Linked DNA regions of Homo sapiens. The protein of the gene in region 2 purifies or fractionates together with the protein of the main gene of each other region. This does not show direct contact. Each region holds a gene or a part of one and is shown on either strand. Other genes may lie near its edges. The genes, in order: ACOT9 and GFPT2.

Region 1 (10,416 bases), on a different chromosome or scaffold from region 2:
CAGAGGAGGGAAAATGGACTATATCCAAAGGAAGTATGGAAGGCAGAACAAAAGGTAAAGAAGAACATAACATGAAAAGGAGACAGAAAGGGAAGAAAAAGAAGAGAAGATTAAGGTGAAAGAGAAAAGAAAGACAAGGGGATACGGAACGACAATGTTGATAAGAACATTAGCTAAGATGTCTTTCTAAGCTTAACTTATAAAGTATTATTTCCAGAAATGTTTACCCTACAAAAACTACAGGAGATAGAGGAATGAGTTAAATGACACCAGTAAATCCAGAATGTGGAACATTCTCAAGACAAATGGCTTGGCCTCCTTAAAGTCAAGCTCATGGGGGAAGAATAGGGGAAGGACGACTGTCCATTACTCTAGATTAGGGAAGACTAAAGAGTCATAACCACCAGATGCAACATGCAATCCTTTATTGGATCTTGATGTTTTTTAAACAGCTATAAAAACATTTTTGTTAAAAGGAGTAATCTATTACACAAAATGGTAACAGTTGAGGAAATGTGACTATGGATGAGTAATATACTAGCAAGGAATTGCTGTCAATTTGATTACATGAGAGAATGTCTTATTTGTTGGAGATAAGCGAAGGCTGGTTTTATAAAATGTTTACTGAAGATGCACGCTGAAGTGTCATGGTGTCTATAATTTACTTAGAAATGGTTCAGGCAATATGTGTATATTGGAAAATTTGGCAAAATATTAATAAGTATGGAATCCAGGTGGTGGGTACACAGGTATTCATTCTTTCTACCTTTTAGTAAAGTGAAATTTTTCATATAAAGAATTTAAAAATAAGTCATTAGATAATTTCTATACCAACAATAGATTATTATATATCTAGTGATCACTCGTGTTTTTTCTATCTCATTTTAGCCTCAAAATTATGTACACCAAGAGGGATATGATCCTACTTTACAACAAGGAAATACTGCGAGAAAGAGAAAGACAATATGGGAGGCCTGACTAATTTTGAACTGACAAGAAGCAATAAAGGAGTCAAGTTGCATGAAACAGAGAAACTTAGCGACTTGGGTTCAAGTCCCAAACCCTGACATTTAATCATTCAATCTCTGAGTTTCAGTTTCATGTGTAAAAAAAGGAACAGGAACATATGTCGTAAGCACGTCACAAGTTTTGTTATGAGAATCAGTGAAGTAATATACACCTAAATGCACTTTGAAAATGCAGAATATACGTAAATCATCTTCTTTCATGACAATGAGGTGTCATCTGATGAGTATGTTGAAATGTTGACCTTCTCCCCCAAGCAAAATACTTCTCAACCTATCTCTGAACATAGGGCTCCCCATCCCCACTGTGAGACCATCAACTGAGCCTAAATACAGTGTAGTATAATACCTTGGGGATGAAAAGAATGAATGAAAACAAAGATGCATACCTCCAGTTTGTGGATGCTCCTACTATCTCCCGCAACTTATCTCGAACTGAAACAAAAATAAAGAGGTCATTCCATGAAACAAAGAAATATGAGAAACGGATTATGGCAATGAGCTCAAGAACTACAAAAAGCAATTCATGCACTCAAAAGATTTAAAGATCCATAGATTTCCATTTAATGCCACAACAAACAGCTCAGGGACAGGATCAAGCCTCTGCTCCCTAAAAACCTGAAAGAACTATACTGTCTCTTTAAAGGTGCACAAATGAATACCTTTGTGCCAATCACTAGGGTTTATATAAACAAACAAAAAAGGATAACTTCAATTATTCACTTAATGGGGCTGTATCAGTGTTAGCCAGTAAGAGCCATTATGATGGAGATATGAACAGGATTCCCACCTATCTTCTTTTTTGTTGTTTTTTTTGAGATGGTCTCACTCTGTCACCCAGGCTAGAGTTCGGTGGCACAATCTCGGCTCACTGCATCCTCCACCTCCCGGGTTCAGGCGATTCTCCTGCCTCAGTCTCCCAAGTAGCTGGGATTACAGGCGCTGTGCCACCACACCCGGCTAATTTTTGTAGTTTTGTTTTGTTTTGTTTTGTTTGAGACAGAGTTTCGCTCTTGTTGCCCAGCCTGGAGTGCAATAGCACGATCTCAGCTCACTGCAACCTCCGCCTCCCGGGTTCAAGTGATTCTCCTGCCTCAGCCTCCCGAGTAGCTGGGATTGCAGGCAGGCATCACCATGCCCTGCTAATTTTGTATTTTTAGTAGAGATGGGGTTTCACTATGTTGGTCAGGCTGGTCTTGAACTCCTGACCTCAGGTGATCCGCCTGCCTCGGCCTCCCAAAGTGCTGGGATTACAGGTGTGAGCCACTGCGCCTGGCCCCCACCTATCTTCTTATACGCAGTAATAGATCAAATTACTTAGTTCAGAGACTAATACTAATATCCAAATCTGAGTCTCATTATAATTAATTTCTCATATATTTATAGTCTCCTGGTTGTTAGAAAAGTTTAAGCCAGAAAAATGAAGCAAAGACTTACATCAAGCTAAGGCAAAGAATGCAATTTTAGTTAATGCCACTGCCCAAAAGTGCAAGCGTATATTAGTGCTTACAAAATTTAAGCTCTTAAAAGAAAAGCTGATACTAATTACCACACACACCATGATTCACATGTATAGATGAACATGCTATATGAATAAAGGGAAAATCAATTAGAGAACCAGCAATAATTCAAAACTAAAAGATAAATCTGTAGTATTTCAAATACTGTGTTGAGTTTATGTGTTTTTCCTAGCACTTCAAAATATACATTCCAGTTATAGGAAATTAACTATAGCAATCCTCAGTCCTTCAATAACTAACTGATCAAAACCAAATATAATTTATATGAACATGCATTTTAACTTTCATGAAAAATGGTTGATTTTTCTATCAAACAATTTTGGATACACCATAAATTTGATGTATAATTACAACTAAATGTTAGAGAACTGCAAACAACAACCATTAGTAACTTAGTCTTATTTCTGATTTTTTCCTCCTAAGTTCCTTGAATAAAAGAATGGATGGGGCCGAGGTGGGTGAATCATGAGGTCAGGAGTTCAAGACCAGCCTGGCCAAGATGGTGAAACCCCGTCTCTACTAAAAATACAAAGATTAGCCTGGCATGGTGGGCACCTGTAATCCCAGCTACTCAGGAGGCTGAGGCAGAGAATCACTTGAACCTGGGAGGCGGAGGTTGCAGTGAGCCAAGATCCCACCACTGCACTCCAGCCTATGCGACAGAGTGAGACTTCATCTCAAAAAAAAAAAAAAAAAAAAAAGGCTCACACCTGTAATCCCAGCACTTTGGGAGGCCAAGACAGGCAGATTACTTGAGGCCAGGAGTTCAAGACCAGCCTGGCCAACGTGGCGAAACTCCATCTCTCCTAAAAATACAAAAATTAGTTGGGCGTGGTGGAGCATGCCTGTAATCCTAGCTACTAGGGAGGCAGAGGTTGCAGTGAGCCGAGATCCTGCCACTGCACTCCAGCCTGGGTGACAGAGCAAGACTCCATCCCAAAAAAAAAAAAAAAAAAAAAAAAAAAAAAGAATGGACAGAAAGTACCTCAAATAGTACATGGACTACTGATGCTCACTGACATAAAATAATTACTACTAGCTTAATCAGTGTAAGAAGAGAGGCAAGTATTGAGGGCCAAGAAGGAAAAACTTTTTAATTTTACTTACATATATATTTATATACACACATAATATAAATTTATTTGGACCCTTTAAAGAAGCCGCAATTTTAATTATAACGAATACTCCTAGTTTAATAAAGACAATCCATAGTTTACGTATCATATTGGTAATTGAAATTAACTTTAATTAAGCATGGACTAACAGGATCCCTCGAACATAACTATGGACTAGGAGTGTTTACTTGATACAACTAATGGGCCCATCTCTTTTTTTCCATGCCTTCAGAACCTACACACAGGAAGTGGAAATCACCTAACTAAAAGAGCTCAGTCCTCAAGGCTCCCAGGAACAATAGTTCAAAATCTGAATGTGACTTCTATCTGAAGCTATTAATATTATGCAGCTATCCTGGTCATTTTGTCAATGAAATGTTTATGAAAGATCTACCTTTAATATGCCTCATTTGCTCTAAACTATCACTCTATATACCTTTCAAATAAAAGTAAAACAAGGTTTTTCACCACATAGGCATCAAACAGAGACACCATGCTTGCCTTCATGAATGTGGAAGATTCCCTGTTTCTTGGGGTTCTGGGGTCCTTGAGTCAGTCCTCTTCCAGGAGTAAGCTGCCCTTTGCCCAAGGCACAAAGCCTATAAAACAAGATAAAACACAGAGCAGATCCCACAGCTTCTTCCCTGGCAACCCTAAAGACCTACCCTCCTCCCAGAGTATCTGGCCATATCACCCTTAGTATATATTGTCTTGTAGGAGTCTGTAGCTGTTTCACAAGTATATGTATGTTTTCATGAGGCTATTCCATAAATCATCTCTCCCACTAGAGTAAACATTTCTTGAGAGCAGAGACCAATTAGGTAATTATCTACAAAATAAATAAAAGACGGCAACTAGGTTTAATGCATTTATTATTGGTCTTTCTATTTTATTAGTTTCAGAAGTCCATAATCGATTTAGTAAACAACTGAGCAAACTCATTATGAACAATTTATTCTGTTCTTTATTATCGCACCATATTTCCTCAATAAATAAGATAAACCCAATTATAAAGTAAACTTTGAAAATTGAATTAGCCCTTTCCAGATGCAAAGAAAGTATTTATTTAACTTACGCAGAAATTTTCTAGAGTCCCAACACAATAAAATAAAAGCTATCTACTGGCCACGGTGGCACAGGCCTGTAATCCCAGCACTTTGGGAGGCTGAGGCAGGTAGACAGGTTGAGCCCAGGAGTTCAAGACCAGCCTGGGCAACATGGCAAAACCCCATCTCTACAAAAAATACAAAAATTAGCCGGGCGTGGTGGCATGCACCTGTGGTCCCAGCTACTCAAGAGGCTCAGATGGGAGGATCACTTGAACCCAGGAGGTCGAGGCTGCAGTGAGCCAAGATTGTACCACTGCACTCCAGCCTAGGCAACAGAGTGAGACCCTGCTTCAAAAAAATAAAAAATAAAAGCTGTCTACCTAAATGTGCCTAACCTACTCTCCCAAAATAAGTTGATTTTGGTTCATTATTGCTTAAGCATTGACTCCTAATCACACAATATTATGTCAGGGGTAGCACACAGGCAATATCACAGATTAATAAACTGATCTGTGAGAGCACAGTTGAAGAAGGCAAGGCACTGAATAGGTTAAGAACCCCGCAGGCCAGGCGTGGTGGCTCATGCCTGTAATCCCAGCACTTTGAGAAGCCAAGGCAGGTGGATCACTTGAGGTCAGGAGTTCGAGACCAGCCTGGCCAACATGGTGAAACACTGTCTGTACTAAAAATCCAAAAATTAGCCGGGTGTGGTGGCAGGCACCTGTAATCCCAGCTACTTGTGAGGCTGAGGCAGGAGAATCGCTTGAACCCAGGAGATGGAGGTTGCAGTGAGCCGAGAACACACCACTATACTCCAGCCTGGGCAACAGAGCAAGACTCTGTCTCAAAACAAAAACAAAAATAAAACAAACAAACAAAAAAAACCCAGAACCCCAGATACTGTCACTCATTCCAGTTCAATTTACTAGTAAATTCTCACCACCTAATGTGGGAATAAGCAATGACTAACAACAAAAAAAAGAGATATTTTTAGTTTTCTTTACAGACCAAGCTACTATAGGTTTCTCTTCTGAATGACAGCATTCAGAGAAAGCCTCTCAGTATTTACAGTATTCTGTAAAATCTACATGCAGTTTTGACACTGTGCTGTTAGAACAAATCCTTATCCTTTCACCAAGTCAAATCATCTAATTGCACAGAACACAGAAATATGAGCACATACTCATTGGCTAATTGAACTTCTTAGTCACCAGTCATCTTATTTGGTTGCAATACAATCCCTGCTGGTCCACTAAGACCAAAATTCTTGCTGGAGGGTTTGGGGTTTTGGATCTGTTTATTCTTCAATCACACAGCTAACAAGCCTCTCTCTTAAATATTTTAGCTTCACTTTTTCACGATAAATATTCAATTCCTGTACTTTCGTATACAGATTAATATTTGTCTTTTTTTTTTTTTTTAGACAGAGTCTCGCTCTGTCGCCCAGGCTGGAGTGCAGTGGTGCGATCTCGGCTCACTGCAAGCTCTGCCTCCCGGGTTCACGCCATTCTCCTGCCTCAACCTCCCGAGTAGCTGGGACTACAGGCGCCGCCACCGCGCCCGGCTAATTTTTTGTATTTTTAGTAGAGACGGGGTTTCATCATGTTAGCCAGGATGGTCTCAAACTCCTGACCCTGTGATCTGCCCACCTTGGCCTCCCAAAGTGCTGGGATTACAGGCATGAGCCACCGCACCTGGCCGTCTTTTTGTTTTTGACCATCTAATCTGCATTTTCTCAGAACGTGATTTGAATTTTCCATTTTTTTCATTATTTTGTTTTATGTATCTTCTATAGGTTCATATGCCTTACTGAAGGAAACAGAGTAAGTATTCCTTCATTCTTCCATCTCAGAAACAAGCAGCCAGGCATGGTGGCTCATGCCTGTAATCCTAACACTTTGGGAGGCTGAGGTGGGTAGATCACCTGAGGTCAGGAGTCCGAGACCAGCCTGGCCAACATGGTGAAACCCTATCTCTATTAAAAACATAAAAATTAACCAGGCATGGTGGCGCACACCTGTAGTCCCAGCTACTCTGGAGGCTGAGGCAGAATCACTTGAACCCAGGAGGCAGAGGTTGCAGTGAGCTGAAATGGCCCCATTGCATTCCAGCCTGAGCAACAGAGCAAGACTCCATCTCAAAAAAGAAACTAGCATTCTACAACTGAATATATCTGGTTTTAAAGAACACACTGGAAAAAGCTAATCCTTTCTATTGCTACCATTAGCTGAAAGAGCAAAAAAATCATGACCCCCAACACATTAATAGGAACTATAATAGACACGTTAAATGTATCCAACATAAGAAATGGGATCTGATTCTGAATGGCTAAATACCCTGAATACGCATCACTAACAGGAGCTATATAACCAGTCTCACATACCTGAATAAATACACATATACACAGAAATTGTTTTGTTACACTAAGAAGCAGCATTTTCTGAAGAGGGATGAAAATCATTCCATCCTGTTTGTGTGAGAGGCAATACAGTATAGGGGTTAACCCAAAGGCTGGGCGCAGTGGCTCATGCCTGTAATGCCAACACTTTGGGAGGCCGAGGCAGGCGTATCACTTGAGGTTAGGAGTTTGAGACCAGCCTGGCCAATATGGTGAAACCCCGTCTCTACTAAAAATATGAAAATTAGCTGGGCATGCTGGCGGGCACCTGCAGTCCCAGCTACTCGGGAGTCTGAGGCAGGAGTATTGCTTCAACCCAGGAGGCGGAAGCTGCGGTGAGCCGAGATCGTGCCACTGCACAGCGAGACTCTGTCTCAAAAAAAAAAGAGCCCAATCATGCTGCTTGTTAGCTGAGTTACCTTAGACAAGTTACCTAACCTCCCTGATCCTCAGTTTCCTCATCTGTAAAATGGGGATAATAATACTACCTATCCCATAGGATTGTCAAAAGGATAAAGGAATTAACACATATTAAACCCTGAAGGGCACGTCTAGAAGAGCATGTCTAATATACTGACAAGTCCTCAAAAATCTCTAGCTATCATTATTCCAGAAAGTCATGCTTCTCCAAAGTCTCCCCTAAAGATCAAAAAGAACCAGGCTGGGCACAATGGCTCACGCCTGTAATCCCAGCACTTTGAGAGGCCAACGCGGGAGGATCACTTGAGACCAGTGTGGGCAACATAGGGAGATCCCGTTTCTACAAAAAAATTTTAAAATATTAGTCAGGCGTAGTGGTGCACACTTGTGGTCACAGCTACTCAGGAGGCTGAGGTGGGAGGATCACTTGAGCCCCGGGGAGGTCGAGGCTGCAGTGAGCCATGATCGCACCACTGCACTCCAGCCTGGGTAAAAGAGCAAGACTCTGTCTCCAAAAAAAAAGGAAAGATAGCCTAAGCCAGGCACTATCACGGACCACTGCCAAACATAGAATCAAATGAGGAGAGAAAAGAAGGGAGTTAATGAATACAGAGAAACACTTGGGCCAATTTATTTGGAAAATTGTAGTCCTAGAGCCCCATTGCTTTGCATGCTGCCTTAAAAAATTTGGAAATACATTCCTGTGGCACAACAAAGGCATAATTGGAACACTTTTTAAAAAAATGTTGCTTATACCAATAGCATATTGGTAATAATAAATCTATATCATACTGTCAACATAGCATTCAAGAGTATTCGGGTAATGGTAACTTTTTTTTTTTTTGAGACAGTCTCACTGTCACCCAGGCTGGAGTGCAGTGGCAACATCTTGGCTCACTGCAACCTCCACCTCCCGAGTTCAAGCGATTCTCCAGCCTCAGCCTCCCGAGCAGCTGGGATTACAGCTGTGCACCACCATGCCCAGCTAGTTTTTGTGTTTTTAGTACAGACAGGGCTTCACCATGTTGACCAGGCTGGTTTTGAACTCCTGACCTCAAGTGATCTGCCCGCCTCAGTATCCCAAAGTGCTGGGATTATAGGCGTGAGCCACCGCGCCTGGCATGTAATGGTAACTTTTCACTACATTTGGTATCCTATTTACTGATAATCTGATGGAAACTGTGGACCTCGAGCGGGCGTGGGAAGGGTTGGAATACATTTTTGCTCACACACACAATGGTATATACTATTTCAGGAGGTGCACAGACCCTTTTTGTACCCTCAGATCCCCCTATATTTGAAGATTCTGATTCAAACCAACCTCCTTAAGAAACTGAGGCCCCAGTTTCAGACGACTTTCCCCCAGTGCCAGTCAACAGGCACACCAGCAGAGTCCAGATAGAGCCCAGTTCTTCCGATCTCCCCCAATACATACACACACACACACACACACACACACACACACACACACACACACACCGCACTGAGGTGGAGGAGGTGGGAGAATGGTTTTAATCAATACTCAACACTTCAGTACCTCAGGGTTACTGGCTTATCTCCTGATAAGCCCTCAGGAGTCTTACTTATAGCAAAACCTCTAGGCCTTTACTGTGGAGAGGCCTTTGCAACACTCAAATCCCAGGACCTTGTAACTGAACCTTTCCAATCAAAGGAGATCAAGAAACTCAAGGCGGGGGGAGTGGGGAGGGACAGCATTAGGAGATATACCTAATGCTAAATGACGAGTTAATGGGTGCAGCACACCAGCATGGCACATGTATACATATGTAACTAACCTGCACATTGTGCACATGTACCCTAAACTTAAAGTATAATAATAATAATAATAAAAAGATGATTATTACAAAAAGACAAAAGATAACAAGTGTTGGTGAGGATGTAGAGAAAAGGGAACCCTCGTACACTATTGGTGAAAATGTAAACTGGTACAGCCATTTTGAAAAATAATGAGGCAGTTCCTCCAAAAATTAAAAATATAACTACCATATGATCCAGCAATTTCTCTTCTGGACATATATCCCAAAGAAATAAAAAAAGTATTTCAAAGAGAAAAAAAAAAAAGAAAACTCAAGGCCTCCATGGCCTACCTGGGGAGTCACATAACTCACCCTGGCTCAGCCCTGGGTCCCAAGCTTACAGCAGTTGGCAAGGAAGAGTGTTCAGTGCAATAACAGGCAATACCACTCATATGCCCTCCACTCTGAGGAAATAACCTCTATTTAGAGACTAAACAAAGGTGCCTCTTGCAAGTCTAAAAAAGAAAAGAAGCTACAAAGGTTGCCCACCAGTCAAAGAACCTAATCATCTCAGTCTATATTCATTTGTGAACTCCTCCTCTCACTAGACACTAAGAGATTATCCGCTTAAGGTTCAATAGTTTTTTGTTTGAGACAGAATCTCACTGTGTTGCCCAGGCTGGAGTGCAGGGGCGCGATCTCAGCTCACTGCAACCTCTGCCTTCCGGTTCAGGCGATTCTCCTGCCTCAGCCTCCAAAAGTAGCTGTGACTACAGACATGCACCACCACTCCCGGCTAATTTTTGTATTTTTAATAGAGACGGGGTTTCACCATGTTGGCCAGGCTGGTCTCGAACTCCTGGCCTCAAGTGATCCATCCACCTCAGCATCCCAAAACGCTGGGACTGCAGTCGTGCACCACCACACCCGGCCTCAATAGAATTTTCAAGAAAGGAACACAGGGTTATAAGAGAAAGCACCTGAACAAGACCATGGAGCTTTTGTAGAAGACCTTTCACATTGCAAGCTAAAGTCAACTGTGGCCCCTCTCATAATGACTTTCAGTCTGCCTTCAAATAGTTTAACAAAGGTTTTTTGTTTGTTTTTAAGTACTATAAACAAGACAGAACCC
Region 2 (15,740 bases):
ACCCAGCGGAGCATTGTGTAGCCACTTAGAAAGCTACTTAGAAAGAGTTTAGGATCGGCCGGGTGCGGTGGCTCACGCCTGTAATCCCAGCACTTTGGGAGGCCAGGGCGGGTGGATCACAAGGTCAAGAGATTGAGACCATCCTGGTCAACACGGTGAAACCCCGTCTCTACTAAAAGTACAAAAATTAGCAGGGTGTGGTGGTGGGCGCCTGTAGTCCCAGCTACTCGGGAGGCTGAGGCAGAAGAATGGCGTGAACCCAGGAGGCGGAGCTTGCAGTGAGCTGAGATCGCGCCACTGCACTTCAGCCTGGGTGACAGAGCGAGACTCCATCTCGAAAAAAAAAAAAAAAGAATGAATGAGTTTAGGATCCTAGAAATGCCAAGTGAAAAGAGAAGAATATAAAATTACAAAATTGCATAATTATAATTAGGTAAAAACAAAAAATATCAACGTACAACACCTCCACCACAGACCACCCCCACAGACAACAGCGACCGGAGAAGGGTCCCAAAGACTGATGGGGGCTCCTTTTTTAATGAAGCCACCTCACTGAGGCAGGGCTGACAAACACAACGCTGCGCATACTTAATGTCTACAACTCGATGAGCTTGGAGGCACGTGTGCCCCCATGAAACCACCACTGCCGTCTATGCCATCAACCTATCACCTCCGAGAGTCTGCTCCTGCCCTCTTTATGTATTGTTCTGTGTGTGATAAGAGGACTTAGCATAAGCTCTACCCTCTTGGCTGGGCTCACTGGCTCACACCTACAATCTCAGTGCTTTGGGAGGCAAAGGCAGGAGGATCGCTTGGGGCTACGCCGGGCAGCACAGTGAGACCTCATCTCTACAAAAAATAAAAAATTAGCCGGGTGTGGTGGTGCACGCCTGTAGTCCCAGATGCTGAGGAGGCTGAGGGTCGCCTGAGCCCAGGAGCTTGAGGCTGCAGTGAGCCAATTTCTTGGAACTGCACTCCAGCCTGAGTAACAAAAATAAAAATAAAAATATGAAAATCTACCCTTTTGGCAAATTTTTATGTGCAAAATACAGTGTTGCTCAAGTCAGGCACCGCACGGCAGAGCAGCTGTCCAGGACTTACTCATGCTGCATGACTGTGGCTTTGTACCCTTTCTGCTTCCTGATGGGGGGACTTCTGATGAAGGGGGTTTTCTGGGGTTTTTTACCCTTGCTTCTTCTATTTTTCCATAGTTTTCGAATTTCTTTAACGGACAAGTGTTATTTTTATATTGAAAAGAGACGTTAAAAAGTAGCAGAAAAAATGCCCTGGTTGTAAACCCCCCTGCAGTGGAGATGGGTGAGACCACAGCAGCGGAGCCCGGTCCCCAGCCACGAGGCGGGCGGCCGCACACCCACCTGCCGAGTCGTAGCCTCTGTACTCCAGCCGCTGCAGGCCCTTGATGAGGGTTTCGAAGATCTCCTTCCTCGTCCGGGGGACTCTGTAGTTCATGTAGGCAAAGATTCCTGTTCAAAGAGAAAAAAATGGTGCATTCATAAAATACTCAGCTCGTGTTTGGAAGAAAACGCTTCTGGGGGATGCACCGAGGTGGCATCACAAAGGTCTCCCAGGGGCTTGCAGAGGTGGGTATGCCCCTCCCTGAGCACAGCTGAAGAACGGTGCACCCCTTCTTCCTCCTGTGACAAAAACCCCCAGAAAGCCTGTGTCACATGTCTTGGGCTGGCAGTTCCACTGCTGAGAACTTATCCTATGCTGTACTTGCAGGAGGCAGCTTTCAGCGTGGCAATGTCCATAATAGAAAAGGCAGCAATGAAATCCAACCGCCTTAGGACATCCGGAAGTCCCCACCTCCATGCACTCCCTGATTTGCAGAGCACACATCTAGGAGTGCCATAGAAAGGGACAGCAGCCCCCAGGGCAGATGGGACAGGCGCTGGGGCCTTTGCTTCCACGGTCCCCTTCTCCGTAAGGCTGGAACTTGACCTTAAATAAGCACTACTTGAGCCGGGGGCGGTGGCTCATGCCTGTAATCCCAGCCCTTTGGGAGGCCGAGGTGGGTGGATCACCTGAGGTCAGGAGTTCGAGACCAGCCTGGCCAACATGGTGAAACCCCATCTCTACTAAAAATGCAAAAATTAGCTGGGTGTGGTGGTGTGTGCCTCTAACCCCAGCTACTCGGGAGGCTGGGGCAGGAGAATTGCTTGAACCAGGGAGCTGGAGGTTGCAGTGAGCCGAGATCGTGCCACAGCACTCCAGCCTGGCGACAGAGCTAGACTCTGTCTCAAAAAAAAAAAAAAAAAAAAAAGCACTACTTTTATGACAGCAAGAATAAAACCATCTCATGCCCCTTGGCCCCTGCAGAATCCTTATGTTCAAGGTAGGCCTATGAGTCAAGAAGATTTTGTTCCACTTGACTTTCTGTATTCATATTTCAAGATAATTTTCCAAACAGAAAGTTAGCCGTTGTGTTGGTTCTGCCTTCCAGATTCCTCCACTCCTTGTTTGTGATGACAGATCCTTGATGTCCTCTCTCCTGCCCTGTGCATGCCCCATCCTCATCCCATCATCCCTCTGTCCTTTCATCCTCGCTCCCACTGCTCAGGAAAACCTGCCCACTTCAAAGCTCAGCTCCAGCCCCCGCCCTGGGCAGGTGTGCTCCTGGCTCTGGCCACCTCAGTGCTCTCACGTCATGGGACACCCACAGTCCCCACCAAGGGCACAGGCTGGTGCTTCTATCTTTGTATTCCTCACTGTGTGTTGGCACCCAGTCCTGTTCACATGTGGAACAGAATATGTGATGAGTGTGTATCTGTATCCCTGGAGGGAGGCAATAGTATGGGTCATAGAAATGTCACTGGGTTTCAGGCATATTCACGGTAACTGTCCTAAGTTGGCTTGGGCTGCTGTAACAAAATACCACAGACTGCCTGGGTTATAAGCCACAGATGTTTATTCTCACAGTTCTGGAGGCCGAGAAGTCCAAGATCAAGGTGCCAGAGATTCAGTGTCTGGTGAGGGCCCGTTCCTCACAGACAGTGACTGCTCATTCCAACCTCATACGGTGGAAGGGGCCAGGGTCTCTCTGGAGGTTTTTTTTTTTGTTTTTGTTTTTGTTGTTTTTCTTTTTTGAGACAGAGTTTCATTCTTGTTGCCCAGGCTGGAGTGCAATGGCACGATCTTGGCTCATGGCAACCTCCGCCTCCCGGGTTCAAGCGATTCTCTTGCCTCAGCCTCCCGAGTAGCTGGGATTACAGGCATGTGCCACCACACCTGGCTAATTTTGTATTTTTAGTAGAGATGGGGTTTCTCCATGTTGGCCAGGCTGGTCTCGAACTCCCGACCTCAGGTCATCCGCCCGCCTCGGCTTCCCAAAGTGCTGGGATTACAGGCGTGAGCCACCCTGCCTGGCCTGCAGGTTTTTTTTTTTTTTTTTTGAGACGGAGTCTAGCTCTGTTGCCCAGGCTGGAGTGCAGTGGTGCCATCCTGGCTCACTGCAAGCTCCGCCTCCCAGGTTCACACTATTCTCCTGCCTCAGCCTCCCGAGTAGCTGGGACTACAGGTGCCCGACACCATGCCCAGCTAATTTTTTTTTGTATTTTTAGTAGAGATGGGGTTTCACCATGTTAGCCAGGATGGTCTCAATCTCCTGACCTCATGATCTGCCCACCTCCGCCTCCCAAAGTGCTGGGATTACAGGCGTGAGCCACCACGCCTGGCTCCGCAGTTTTTAAATAAGGGCACTCATCCCATTCGTGAGGCCCATGTCCCTATGACCTAATCGCCTCCCCAAGGCCCCACCTCCTAGTAAGACCACCATGCAGCTGAGGATTTCAACAGATGAATGACGGGGGAACAAACTCTCAGGCCACAACAGCGACTCGCCTCACTGAGAAGTCCCTGTGGGCCGGGCACTGGGCCACCAGTTCCCACAGGGTCATCCTATGCTCAAAACAGCCTCTGAGGCTAGTCCATGGCCCTCCTCTTAACTTCTGGACCAGAGCCACAGGGGAGCCTGTGACTCGTCCAGAGCCAGAGTGGAACCAAGAATCCCCGACTCAGGACTTAAACACTCCTACCCACTGGCCAGTACCCCGGGATGGATGCCACGAGGGTTACAAGAAGGTTTATTTTCCCAACTATGTTTTGCTGGGATGAGAGAAAGGTCTGATCAGGATTGAAATTTTTCCAGAGGTGAACCTCAGAGAGGACAACCTGCCCCTAGATAACAGACAGCTGATTGTGATTATATACGAAACCACCTGGAATATCTCTGGTAATTAAGAAGATCAGATTCATGTCAATATGCTACATCTGAATAAATGATAAACTTCAATGAAATGAATGTTATATTCCTAAACAGTGAGTGGGGTCCCATCATATAAACTTAATTAATCTATAAACAGTCAAAAATAGGCAATAAAATTAAATAGTACTATAAATTATACTTAAATTCTTACTGAAAGCTACTGTACACAGGATATGTTTGCACATATGTATTAAGGTGGGGGATTTATATATAAAAATATGTACACTATGCTTTCTGAGCAGTTACAGGCGTTTTCCTTTAAAATCAGCCAAGGGCAATTTTCTCGGTAGGCTATTTTTGTCTTCCTTGCCATCTTTAGATCAGGTGAGAGGAGCTGAATGTATGGGCTGTGTGTGCAGTTCAGGCCCTTCTCCGGCAGGGCCAAAGTGTCCCCAGTGAGGGCCGCGCAGCACTGCTGCTGAGTATTTATGGTTCCAGAGGCTCACACGACAGCCCCCAAACATCTGGGCATGGGAGGTACTTTTGTCACCTTATTTTTTAAAAAGATAGTTATTTTTTGATATGGTTTCGCTGTGTCCCCACCCAAATCTCATCTTGAATTGCAGCTCCCACAATTCCCACGTGTAAGGAGGTAAATGAATCATGGGGGCGGCTCTTTCCCATGCTGTTCTCGTGAGAGTGAATAAGTCTCATGAGATCGGATGGTTTTATAAAGGGGAGCTTCCCTGCACACACTCTCTTCTCTTGTCTGCCGCCACGTGAGATGTGCCTTTCACCTTCCACCATGACTGTGAGGCCTCCCCAGCCATGTGGAACTATGAGTCCATTAACCCTCTTTCTTTCGTAAATTGCCCAGTCTTGGGCACGTCTTTATCAGCAGCATGAAAATGGACTAATACATCTTTTAATGTCAATTAAAAAATTTTAACAGCTTTCTGGAGACATAAGTCATGTACCGTAGCAGCCTGCCATCTAAAGCATGCGATTCAGTGGTTTAGTATATTCAGAGTTGTGCAATTATCACCATTCATGTTTAGGTGAAATGTTTTTTTTTTTTTTTTTTTTGAGACAGGGTCTCGCTCTGTTGCCTAGGCTGGAGTGCAGTGTTGTGATCTCGGCTCACTGCAACCTCGAACTCCCAGGCCCAAGCTATCCCCACAGCCTTGGCCTCCCAAAGTGCTGGGATTACAGGCATAAGCCACAGTGCCCAGCCTAGGTGAAACTTTTCATAACATTAACTCTTCTAAAAACAACCAGAGGCCAGCGCAGTGGCTCACGCCTGTAATCCTAGCGCTTTGGGAGGCCAAGCTGGACAGATCATGAGGTCAGGAGCTCAAGACCAGCCTAGCCAACATGGTGAAACCCTGTCTGAACTTAAAAAATAGAAAAATTAGCTGGGTATGGTGGTGCGTGCCTGTAATCCCAGCTACTCAGGAGGCTGAGGCAGGAGAATCTCTTGAACTCGGGAGGCAGAGGTTGCAGTGAGCTGAGATCACGCCACTGCACTCCAGCTTGGGTGACAGAGGGAGACTCCATCTCAAAAAGAAAAAAAAAGGAAGAAAGAAAGAAAGAAAAAAACAACAACCAGAAAGTTCCCTGTGGGGACATGGTCAAATTGTGGTCAATGTAAAGACCACAGTTAAGCGAGGGAGGGAACAACTCAATAAAATCTGTTAGAGTCTTTTACACTGAACTTTCCTGGCATCCTGGGCTGGGAATGTTCTAGAATTATACTTGTACCACCCTAAGGGAAGCAGACAGACATCACAGATGACACAAAGGTTCAGAAATGTACCCATTGCCAACTCTGAAAAGGTTTTGCATCTGAATGATGTTCCCGAGTGCATAATGAGTCAGCTCTGCAACTCCCCCCTGCAGCTCCCCCACCTCCCAGCCACACTTCACTCCTGCACACGTCAGGCGAGAACGTTCGGCACGCTCCGCAAGGCACCGCTGACTTTCAGACCCACGACAGCCTCCTGGACAGCAGCGGGGGCATAAGGGGTCCTTGTCCTCAGGACCACCAGCTGTGTCCGTACCCAGCCAGGAGGCCCGGTGCCCACTCAGGCACAGCAGGGGAGCTGACTGCAGTGAGAAAAGCTGCCAAGGAGTGTGGTTTTCACCATCTTGGCGCAAGAAAGCATAAATCTCATTTTCACCACGAGCCCTCTTGCGTAGTGACATCCCTTCGGTCACTTCTTTCATGAAGGAAGCTCTGTTTCTTTGCTTTTGCAGCTCATCCTCTTGGCTGGATCCTCCCTGCACTCTACTGCACTCAAGTGAATAAAATAGCGTTCACGCTGTGCTCTTATCATTTAAAAATAAAACACAGAATAAAATGAAGCTCCTTTCCCAGGAATTTCTCCTGCTATTTACATCAGAATTCCCTTTTGGAATTCCTTCCATCCATAAATAAAAGCTACAGTGAGAATCCACTTTTTTAAACCCATGAGGTCGGTAAAGATCAAACAGTTGGACAGTGAGAGTTTAAACTCACATACCCTCTTTGGAAAGCAATCTGGCAATCTCTCAAAATTAAAAATGTACACATCTGTGGACCAGAGCTGTTGGGCTTCTAAGAAGGTATCCAGCGGACTTTTTGCAGAGATGCATGTGCACACGTGCGAGGACAGCTGCTCAGGGCTCTTGTGGTTGCCAAAGACTAGTGACAGTCTGATGTCTGGCAAGCGACAGGCAAGGGACAGGCAAGGGACAGTGCAGCCACACAGCAGGGCCTTTTACAGGCAGCCCTCAACAGAGAGCAAGGGAAAGCTGTGCATTCTCTTGGAAGGCAATTTAAATCTCCAAGATGTGTCAAGGGAAAAAGAAGCTTGCAGAATATGAGTAAATTACGCAAGGGCTGGGGGAGGAGCATGGAGCATTTCTAGAAGGGCACCACGCCCAGAGGGCAGTCAAAGGTAGCCTCTGAGGTCACTGGATGTTGAGCAGAAACTTCCTTTCCACTGCACGTGTCCTCTTTAGATGGTTAAGACATTTCACCGTGTGCCATGGCACATGTGCCCCTATGTGAATTAGGTGGTGATGAGTACATCACCATTATCTAGATGCCAGATAATGTCTAAATAAGCAAAGACTTCATTCTATCCACAGGGGGATGTCCTAGCCAAGGCCTGAGGGTTAACATGGACCGACTGTTTGGACAGTGGTGTACATGACGCAGACCTGCCTGGTTCACCTGGATTTCCTGTGGCACAGGCATTCTGCTGAGTGGGACCTGAGAGCTTCTGGGTACAGGAGGAGTGACCGTGCGGCACCTGGGACCCCCAGCCAGGCCGGACCTCTGGCTGGTTCTGCTTTCCACCGGTGCTTGAACCCTCCTGGCATGTCCGAAGCACCAGGGCCACAATGGCCCTTCCCTCTGCAGGGGACGCCAGGCCTGCCCTGGCCAGGCCTTCTTGCCCCTCGACAAGAGGGGCCGGGCCCACCTGACTTGGCTGGTCCCCTGTTCCACTCCCCTGGAAGAGCAACGGCCATAAGAGGGCTGTAATAAGGGGCAACCTAAGCACATGCCCCAGCCTTAAAAACACCAGCCCAGGGCCACCCGCCTGGGTTGGCTTCCTCCCTGCTGCTGCCATTCACCAGCCAAGGCATACCCAGAAGCACAGAGGCCGTGGCCAGTGCCGGAACCCACCTCGAACCCCAGCTCCACCCCTTGATTTCAGTGCACTCTCCAGCAAGCCACTGAATGTTCGGACCTCAGTTTCCCTGTCAGTGAAACAGGGTGATGGCTACAATAGTGCCTGCCACAGGGCAAGGAGCTTGAGAAATTATCCCTTGAGAGATTTATCATTCAATAAAACCAAGGGGGAAATAGTACCATTTACTGTCATTTCATCTTGGCCTTCTGCCTGGGGAAATAATGGTTAAACCAAATGCGTTACTTGGTTGTGGCTTGGTCAAGATTTAATTCATCTGTAAGCAGTTCTCAGGCCCACAAGGCCGCGTTGCTGTACTAGGTGCTGCAAGCTACTGGGATGGACCCATCGGGGGGCCTCACTGAGCGCTCCAGGGAAGGACAGGGATGCACAGGGACCTCCCAAGCCCACAGGGGAGGTGGGAAAGGGCTTCCCGCTGGGGTGGGAGTAGGCAGCTCTTTGCAAGGCTGGCTCTTGCTAGCTCTTCGCAAAGGCGCCTCTGACCCATTCTGCAGGTTTTAGCAGATCTTTCCCACCACCTTCTCCAGCCACATAGCCCTGGTTATTCCACGCTGCACTTGCTTCCTTGTCTTTTTCTTCGGCTCCCCGCTGGATTGTAACCTTCTGGAGGATGGGACCACATCTGTCTCATCCATTGCTGAGTCCCCAGCACCTGGCCCAGGGCCTGGCACATCTTAGGTGCTCAATAAATCCATGTTGAGTGAATGAATGAACAGATGGAGGAATGCCAGAGAAGGTAGCCTTTGAGCTGGGTCTGAGACAGCCACGTTCAGCCAAGCATAAGCAGCTCCGCTCACTGGGACCCACAGCAAGGACAAGAGGGACACAGAGGCAGGAGGTCCCTGAGTGCCAGACCCTTACAATGGGAGCACGGTGCCACCAGAACTCTCGGTTAACCCCAAGATAATCAAACACAGAGGCTTACATCCCCCCGCACAACACCCCCGGCCCCATGCACCATGAGGATCCCAGGACTGGCATGAGGACAGCCTTCTAATCAAATGAGCCAGGGCCTAGGGAAGGCTCCCAGAACCCTGCTGGGTAAACCACCATCTACAGTGGCTCCCCGCATGCCAACCCTTCCCGAGCTTCACCTCCTCTAATCCTCATGACATCCTGTGTGAAGAGACTGTGGTTCCCAGGGATAGAGATGGCATCGGAGGCTCCACTGCCAAAGACTTGAGGAATTCACAGCCAGGTCTGCCTTTTTGCAAGCCTGGGCTCACCACTTCTACCCCCACCTCCCCACAATCAGCATAGAAACCTATCCCAAGAAGAAAGGTATAGCTCACACAGAGGGTCCCTGGCTTCTGAGGAGATGCCCGCCTAGCACCAGATGGGTCCAGGACAGGTGCTGCCCCCTGAGAGCCAAGCCCCACCACGGGACAGTCCAGCTTCCAACTCCACCTTTCTCCTCCTGTTCAGCCCCCACCCCACCAGGGCCTCGGTGACCACGGCAAGGCAGGTTCCAGCTACATCCCTCTCTCGTCTTCTCTGCCCCGCGGGCCCACCGCGTGACGTCAACCCCTCCTGCTGTCTGGCCTGAGCCCGCCTTGCTCCCCATGCCACCCTGCAGCTTCCGCCCTCTGGGTCCCACTCCTGCAGGGTGCCCTCAGCCCAGTGCGTGCGCCCCTGGGGCCCCCAGGCCTATGCACATGTGATGCCTTCTCCAACCCCCTACCCCAGATGAAGATCTTTTCCCTCCTCTGAACCCCTTTTTCCAACTTTCCGTCCCCTTTTCAAGGCATCTGTCACTTTCTACCTTGATCTACTGCTCTTTCCTAGCCTCCACTCCCAGGGCTGCCCACGGCGTAAGAAAGGCATCACTGGCAGGCGACAGGATTTTAAATGAGCTGAGAACGGGGCAGTAAATAACACCAAACTTCTTTGGGGGAAAGTTTTCCCCTTTCTGTTACTCTTCTTAGCTTGGAAATCTCCTTGCAGAACTGAGAGGGAACAGACATCAGGCCTAGCAAACCTGGGAGCAGTCTTATTTCTCACATTGAAGAGACAGGGGATGGACCCAGCCAGGTGGGGGATGCTGAGCGCCCAGAGGGGCTGGACAGGGAGGTGCCTTCAGGTTCCCAAGAGCCTGCAGAGGGTTGGGATTGAGAGGCCAGGAGAGCCGAAGGCAGGAGAGCCTGAAAATGCAGGCTTTATGGAAAGTCTGAGATACAGGAGCCTGGAGATCTTTCTAAAGAAAAGGAGCACTTTGCAACCTCTGCAAAGATGGCCCTGGGCCAAGCATCCTTCCTACCAGCAGGAGAGCCCAGGTGGCTTGGAGAAAGGCCCGGCCTGGGGGCAGAGGCTGCCCTGGCCCCACCACCCAGTTTGGTCATGTGCCCTGTGGTCACCCACCCAGAGCTTCCAGACAGCCTTTCAGGGCCCTATCCTCAAAATTGATAGATAAAATGAACCGGGAAAGGTCCCAGAAGGAGAGGGACCGAGAAAAACTCAAGGGGATTCCAGAAGGGATTCGACATGAGCCCTCCGAGAGGAGACTGTAGCCTCTTGGCCCCGGCTCACTGCTATATTCTGGGGCTTCCAGCACTTTCTCTGCACAAGGCCCGAGAGATCACACAGGAAGTCAGGAGCAAAGACATCATGAAGGGGCACGCAGGCAGGGCCTCTGAAGCTCAGGGTTCAACCCCCAAGTGACAGATAACGACAATGGCCAGCGCAGGGAGATGATATTCCCTGGACACCCAGCCAGAAGGTCAGCCACACTAGGGCACTGAATTCCTGGGATTTCCTCTACAGCCCCTGGAGTGCTGAGCGTGGGGGTGGAGGGGAGGGATGATTTGCGGCCTGGGGGATGGGGAAGACACCACTTCGCAGCAGCCAGGTTGGGCCCACGTTCTGATTCTGGTGACGCTTGTTTTGAAAAATCTCTCCAACTTTCCAAGCATCGGCTTCCCAACGAAAGCCCAGCCCTCACTCTGAGTGAGGGGACCGTTCCAGGGAGAGGCCCAGCCAGTGCTCCACACAGGACAGGTTGGCTCTGGAAGCTATGTCACCACCCACCCAGGCCAGGACTCACCCCTCAGAGATCTGTCTTTCTCCCACCATCTGTTGCTTCTCCGAACTGAAGGGGCTGACCTTTATAGTCCATGAGCCTCCTAGAGATTAGGTATCATCCCAGGTCCCAAACTGGATTACTTCCTGCCTCAACAGAAGAGTACGGCCAGTTGAATGTCTGCCTCAATGAGGGCTCGTGAAATTCCCGAGCGTGTGCACGTGTGTGCCTGGGCCTGCCTGTGTGTGTTGGGGGAAGAGGGACAGGTCCACTCTCCTGGGTGAGGCCCACAGGTGTGGAGAGTCCCCTGGGCCTTGGGCAAGGGCTGCTGAGGAGCTGTGGCCTCTCATACACTGGGAAAGGTCACTTGGTGAAGCAGGGATGACAATTCCTGCCACCTCCTTGCAGAAACAAGATCAAAGCTGGAGGTGCCGCGGATGCATGTGATCCCACGCCAGGCTCTTACAGAAAGACAGAGGAGCCTGCGGGCCTGGCGGGGGCCCTGAGCAGACGCGGCACCTGGCTCAGGGTAAGAAGGGGACTTGGCTCCCCTGGAGACAGCCCCAGACTGCCCCAGGCCTCTTTGGGACCCCAGGAGTTAAAGTGACCTCACCATTGGAATCCATGAGATAATAGACTCTGCTTCCTGTGGTAACCTGGACAGGACATTTCTTTTCTTTTTTTTTTTTTTTGTTTTCTTTTTTTGAGACAGGGTCTTGCTCTGTCGCCAGGCTGGAGTGTAGTGGCACGATCTCGGCTCACTGCAACCTCTGCCTCCTGGGTTCAAGCAATTCTCCTGCCTCTCCTTCCCGAGTAGCTGGGACTACAGGTGCGTGCCACCACACCTGGCTAATTTTTTGTATTTTAGTAGAGACAGGGTTTTACCATGTTGGCCAGGATGGTCTCGATCTCCTGACCTCGTGATCCACCCACCTCGGCCTCCCAAAGTGCTGGGATTACAGGTGTGAGTCCCCGTGCCCGGCCATTTCTATTTTTTAATAGAAAAGTTGCCAGTGTCCCTTTCATTCTTACAGTTTCACCAAAAACAAAGAGGGAAGTGATATATATTTAATTAAAAGAAAAAAAAATCTTAAGAAAAGAAGGGGACAGGTACAGTGGCTCATGCCTGTAATCCCAGCACTTTGGGAGGCCGAGGTGGGAGGATGGCTTGAGCCCAGGAGTTCAAGGATGCAGTGAGCCATGATTGCCCCACTGCATCCCAGCCTGGGTAACAGAGTGAGACTCTGCCTCTAAAAATAAAAATAAAATACCTAAATAGTTTAATTGTTTTATTGTGAAATTCATTTTCAGAATTTTCTCTCAAACTTATAACCTCAAATTAATCACTCTTTATAAGCTAATTTTGCTAGATACAAAAATAATCTCTCAATTGAAAAGCACTGTTTACTGATGCTATACCATAAAGTTATAAAAAGAAGGTTTTTCTGAACTTGGGAATCCCCTGAGGAGACAGTGGAGGGCTGCAGCCAGCACAGAGACTGGAGCGACACAGCCACAAGCCAAGGAACGCGGCAGCCCCAGGAGCTGGGAGAGGCCGGCGACAGATTCTCCTCAGAGCCTCTGGAGGAGGCTCAGCCCTGAAGGTACCTTGATCTGGGCCAAGTAAAACCGATTCTGGACTTGTGGTCTCCAGAACTGTGAGCGAATACATTTCTGTTGTTTTAAATCAGTAAGTTTGCAGTCATTTGTTACAGCAGCCAGTGGAGACGAACACACCAACCAGGACAAAAGACGGTGATGTCAAGGCAAGGGCTTCACCTTCTGGCAAGAACTAAGAATTCTCCAGCTCTTCACAGTGATTGTTTTTTTTTTTTTCTCCCTCACAGATTACTAAGTGCAGTATGGGACGCACAGGGACAGTTTACAAATTCGTGGATGGGAAGCGCAAATCCTTCCTGCCAAATCCCCATGCATGCCTGGTCCATGCTGCCACACTCCAGCTCATGCTGTGCCCCAGCCCAGCGTGCCTGCCACCCCCTCCTCTCTGCAGGGCCCGTGCTCGTGTCTGGGTCCTTGTGGCACTGCCCCAGGTCCCTCCCCTTCTTCCTAGGAAGGTCAGCTCCTGCCTCTGTTGTGCAGAGTCCCATGAGTGAGGGAGGCAGCTGGGAAGGACTGGGAGAACAGGCGAGTTTGTGTCCATCACCCAAGGGGTCACCCAGGCCCTATTTGGAAATAAGGACTCCAGGTTGCTCATCTTCAGATTTTGTCAAGAGAAGCCAAAACTCCCACCTACTTATGTGAAATCTCCCAATTTTGTACTTTGGTAACTAATAGAGGAAAAGGTTTAAACCCTGTGCACCAAACAAAAAGATGTCTGTCTTCCCTGTTCGGCCAGTACTCTACCAGGCTGTAGCCCGTGCTCAAGGTCCTCCCTCCACAGCAGCACTGCCCTGATCGGCATCCCGTCCCTGCTGGTGACCAGTCTCTGGACTAGCCCTGCGGCTCACCTGCCCCTTCTTTGAGGGGAGGACCACACCCATGAGATCTTCGAGTCCCCCAGGGCCTGGAAAACACTGGGCATTTCCACTAGTGGCTGAATGAAAAAGGAAGCAGAGAAGGAAAGGAGAGAGACAGGGAGGAAATATTGTAAATTTTCTGTCGCAGAAAGTCAGCAAAATGCCAGCAACTTTCAGATGTCAATAAAACCAAAGTGTCATTTCAGCTAAATTCTCAGTGCACTGAAAGTTTTTGAGAATCATCTGCTGTTTGTAGAGGATCAACTACTGCCGAGTCCTGGCTTCCCATGAGAGAAGCAGCAGGATAAAGGACAGCAAGACATAATCTCAGCAGTGTCATCAGCCAAGTGATAAGGAAGGGCCTTAGGTCTCCGCCCCTGAGGGAACGGCCCAGGAGATCTGAGACCCGAGGCCTGCTCAGACGCCAGGTGCGCACAGACTTCGCAGGGCCTCAGCTTCCCCAGCGTAAAGTGAAGAGCTTATCTGGTTCTTTCTAGGAGCATCTTCACGATTCTTGCAGTATCCTTGTACTAATAGCATAATCACTACTTTTTCTTCTGCAGAATTTGATTAAATTTTCAAAAATTTAAATGAATTCATGCCAAAAGAAAACAACCATAAAAGGAAAATCAGTATCACTTGTCATACATACTCAGACCATCATCCCCCCCAAACAGACCAATGTATTCAATTCTAGCCAGCTGCTGCTGCCTGCTCTGAGCCAGGAATGGCTTCCCCTCTGCACAGGATACTTAAGCAAGTGTCAGAGAGATGTTAAGGACACGTTAGCACCAAGTTGAAACTTTCTCCTGATGTTCTTGAAAAGGAAATAACTTTCCCATGCAGGGATTCCACGACTTCCTGCTGAGCTGTGCCCTCCCCACTTCCCCCACCCTGCCCCCAGCCCCAAATCAGCAAATCTGGGAATTCTGAGAAGGCACCTAAGCCAGCACGCACTCTTTGATTCTGGCTCCGAGTGGGCACCCCCATGGACCGCAGCCACTCCTGAGCCCTGGGTGTCCTTTGGGGACCTCAAGCTCCTTCTCACATACAACCACAAGTCAGTACCAGAAAATCTGAAGATACAGGTGGTCACACCCCAAAGCTCAACCTTTCCCTAGGAGACAACGCGTGTGTGTCCCTTTAAGAAGCAGAACAAAAACACTTGTGATTTTGTGAGCTGGAGGAGGTAGAGCCCCCCCAAAGCTCAGAGAGACTTGGGAAAAAGCAAGATGCCAGTAGGAAGGAGGATGACAGGCAGGGGTGGCAGTGGGGGCAGAGGAGCATCTGAAAGGAAGGGGAAGGGGAGCCTCTGGTGCTGTGGGCAGACCCTCCTGGTTCAAGGGTCTCCTGCACAAGTCTGGCCCCAAGGCCACCAGTTTTGGCCAAGGGTCTTGAATGCTACACTGAGAGGTGTGGAACATCAGGGCTTGGACATCTGGCAAAACTACCACCTTTGCCTCATCTCTGCCCCCAGAAACACCCAAAGGTGGCTCTACACATGGAGAATGGCGTCTGGGAGCACGAGATTTTAGCTGAGGGTTCAGGAATTTCCACGGATGCCTGTTCAGCCTGGGTGAGGCGGCATCCCGAAGCACGCTGCCCGCTCCGCCGTAGGTCGTTCCCTTCTGCCGAGCAGCTGGCCTCCGAGACAAGAGGCCTGCACAGACCTCGGCCAGGGCTCACCGCGGGCGCACCCCACCCCGGCCCTCAGCAAAGTCAGAGAGAGGCCTTTCATGGCTTCGAAAGTTCCTCCAGGTCCTCCAGCCACAGGAGGCTGGAATGGGTAACCGAATCCTACTCAAGGAAAAAAAAAAAAAAAAAAAAGAGCACAGTGACCTTTTGTCCCAGCAGAAGTTCCCGGCTCTCTCCCGGCCAGCGGAGGCGGCCCAGCCAGGAGAGTAAAGAATTGCAGATGTGCGCTCCGGGCCGCGGCCGCCCTCCCCACGGTCCCGCAGCCACGCGGGACAGCGCGGGAGCGCCGCGGGAATCGGACGCCCGGCCCCGCTCCCCGCCCCGGACTCCCTCTCGTGGCTTCGGGCCGAGGTTCGGGCAGTGACTGCCTCTTCCCCGCGCAAAGAGGCGGTAACGCGGCAGCGACCCTTCTAGGGACCAGACGTTCCTTTGGGGTCGCGAGGAGGACGCGCAGGCCCTGCCTGAGGCACTGACGCAGCGGGGGCGACCGGGCGGGCTGCGGGGACGGCGGGGCGGGGTCGCCTCTCCTCTCCTCGGTGGGCGCGGCGGGCTGAGTCGGGATGGGCGCCCCGCACTCGGGATGCGCCGGCCTGCGCGTGGCCGCCTTTGTGGGCGACTGGGAGACGTGG

The links.
Region 1: the proteins of GFPT2 (region 2) and ACOT9 purify together in Homo sapiens (affinity purification with mass spectrometry; 2 studies listed by BioGRID and IntAct, with this or other methods). This does not show direct contact.

Annotation. Positions count from the first base shown.
Region 1 is NC_000023.11:23,731,758-23,742,173, forward strand, and holds part of ACOT9 (acyl-coenzyme A thioesterase 9, mitochondrial isoform a precursor), read right to left. Parts: intron 4,260-10,416; coding exon 4,162-4,259; intron 2,611-4,161; coding exon 2,584-2,610; intron 1,461-2,583; coding exon 1,415-1,460; intron 1-1,414. UniProt on the Homo sapiens protein: Mitochondrial acyl-CoA thioesterase. Catalyzes the hydrolysis of acyl-CoAs into free fatty acids and coenzyme A (CoA), regulating their respective intracellular levels. Regulates both mitochondrial lipid and amino acid metabolism.
Region 2 is NC_000005.10:180,337,117-180,352,856, forward strand, and holds part of GFPT2 (glutamine--fructose-6-phosphate aminotransferase [isomerizing] 2), read right to left. Parts: intron 1,485-15,740; coding exon 1,377-1,484; intron 1-1,376. UniProt on the Homo sapiens protein: Controls the flux of glucose into the hexosamine pathway. Most likely involved in regulating the availability of precursors for N- and O-linked glycosylation of proteins.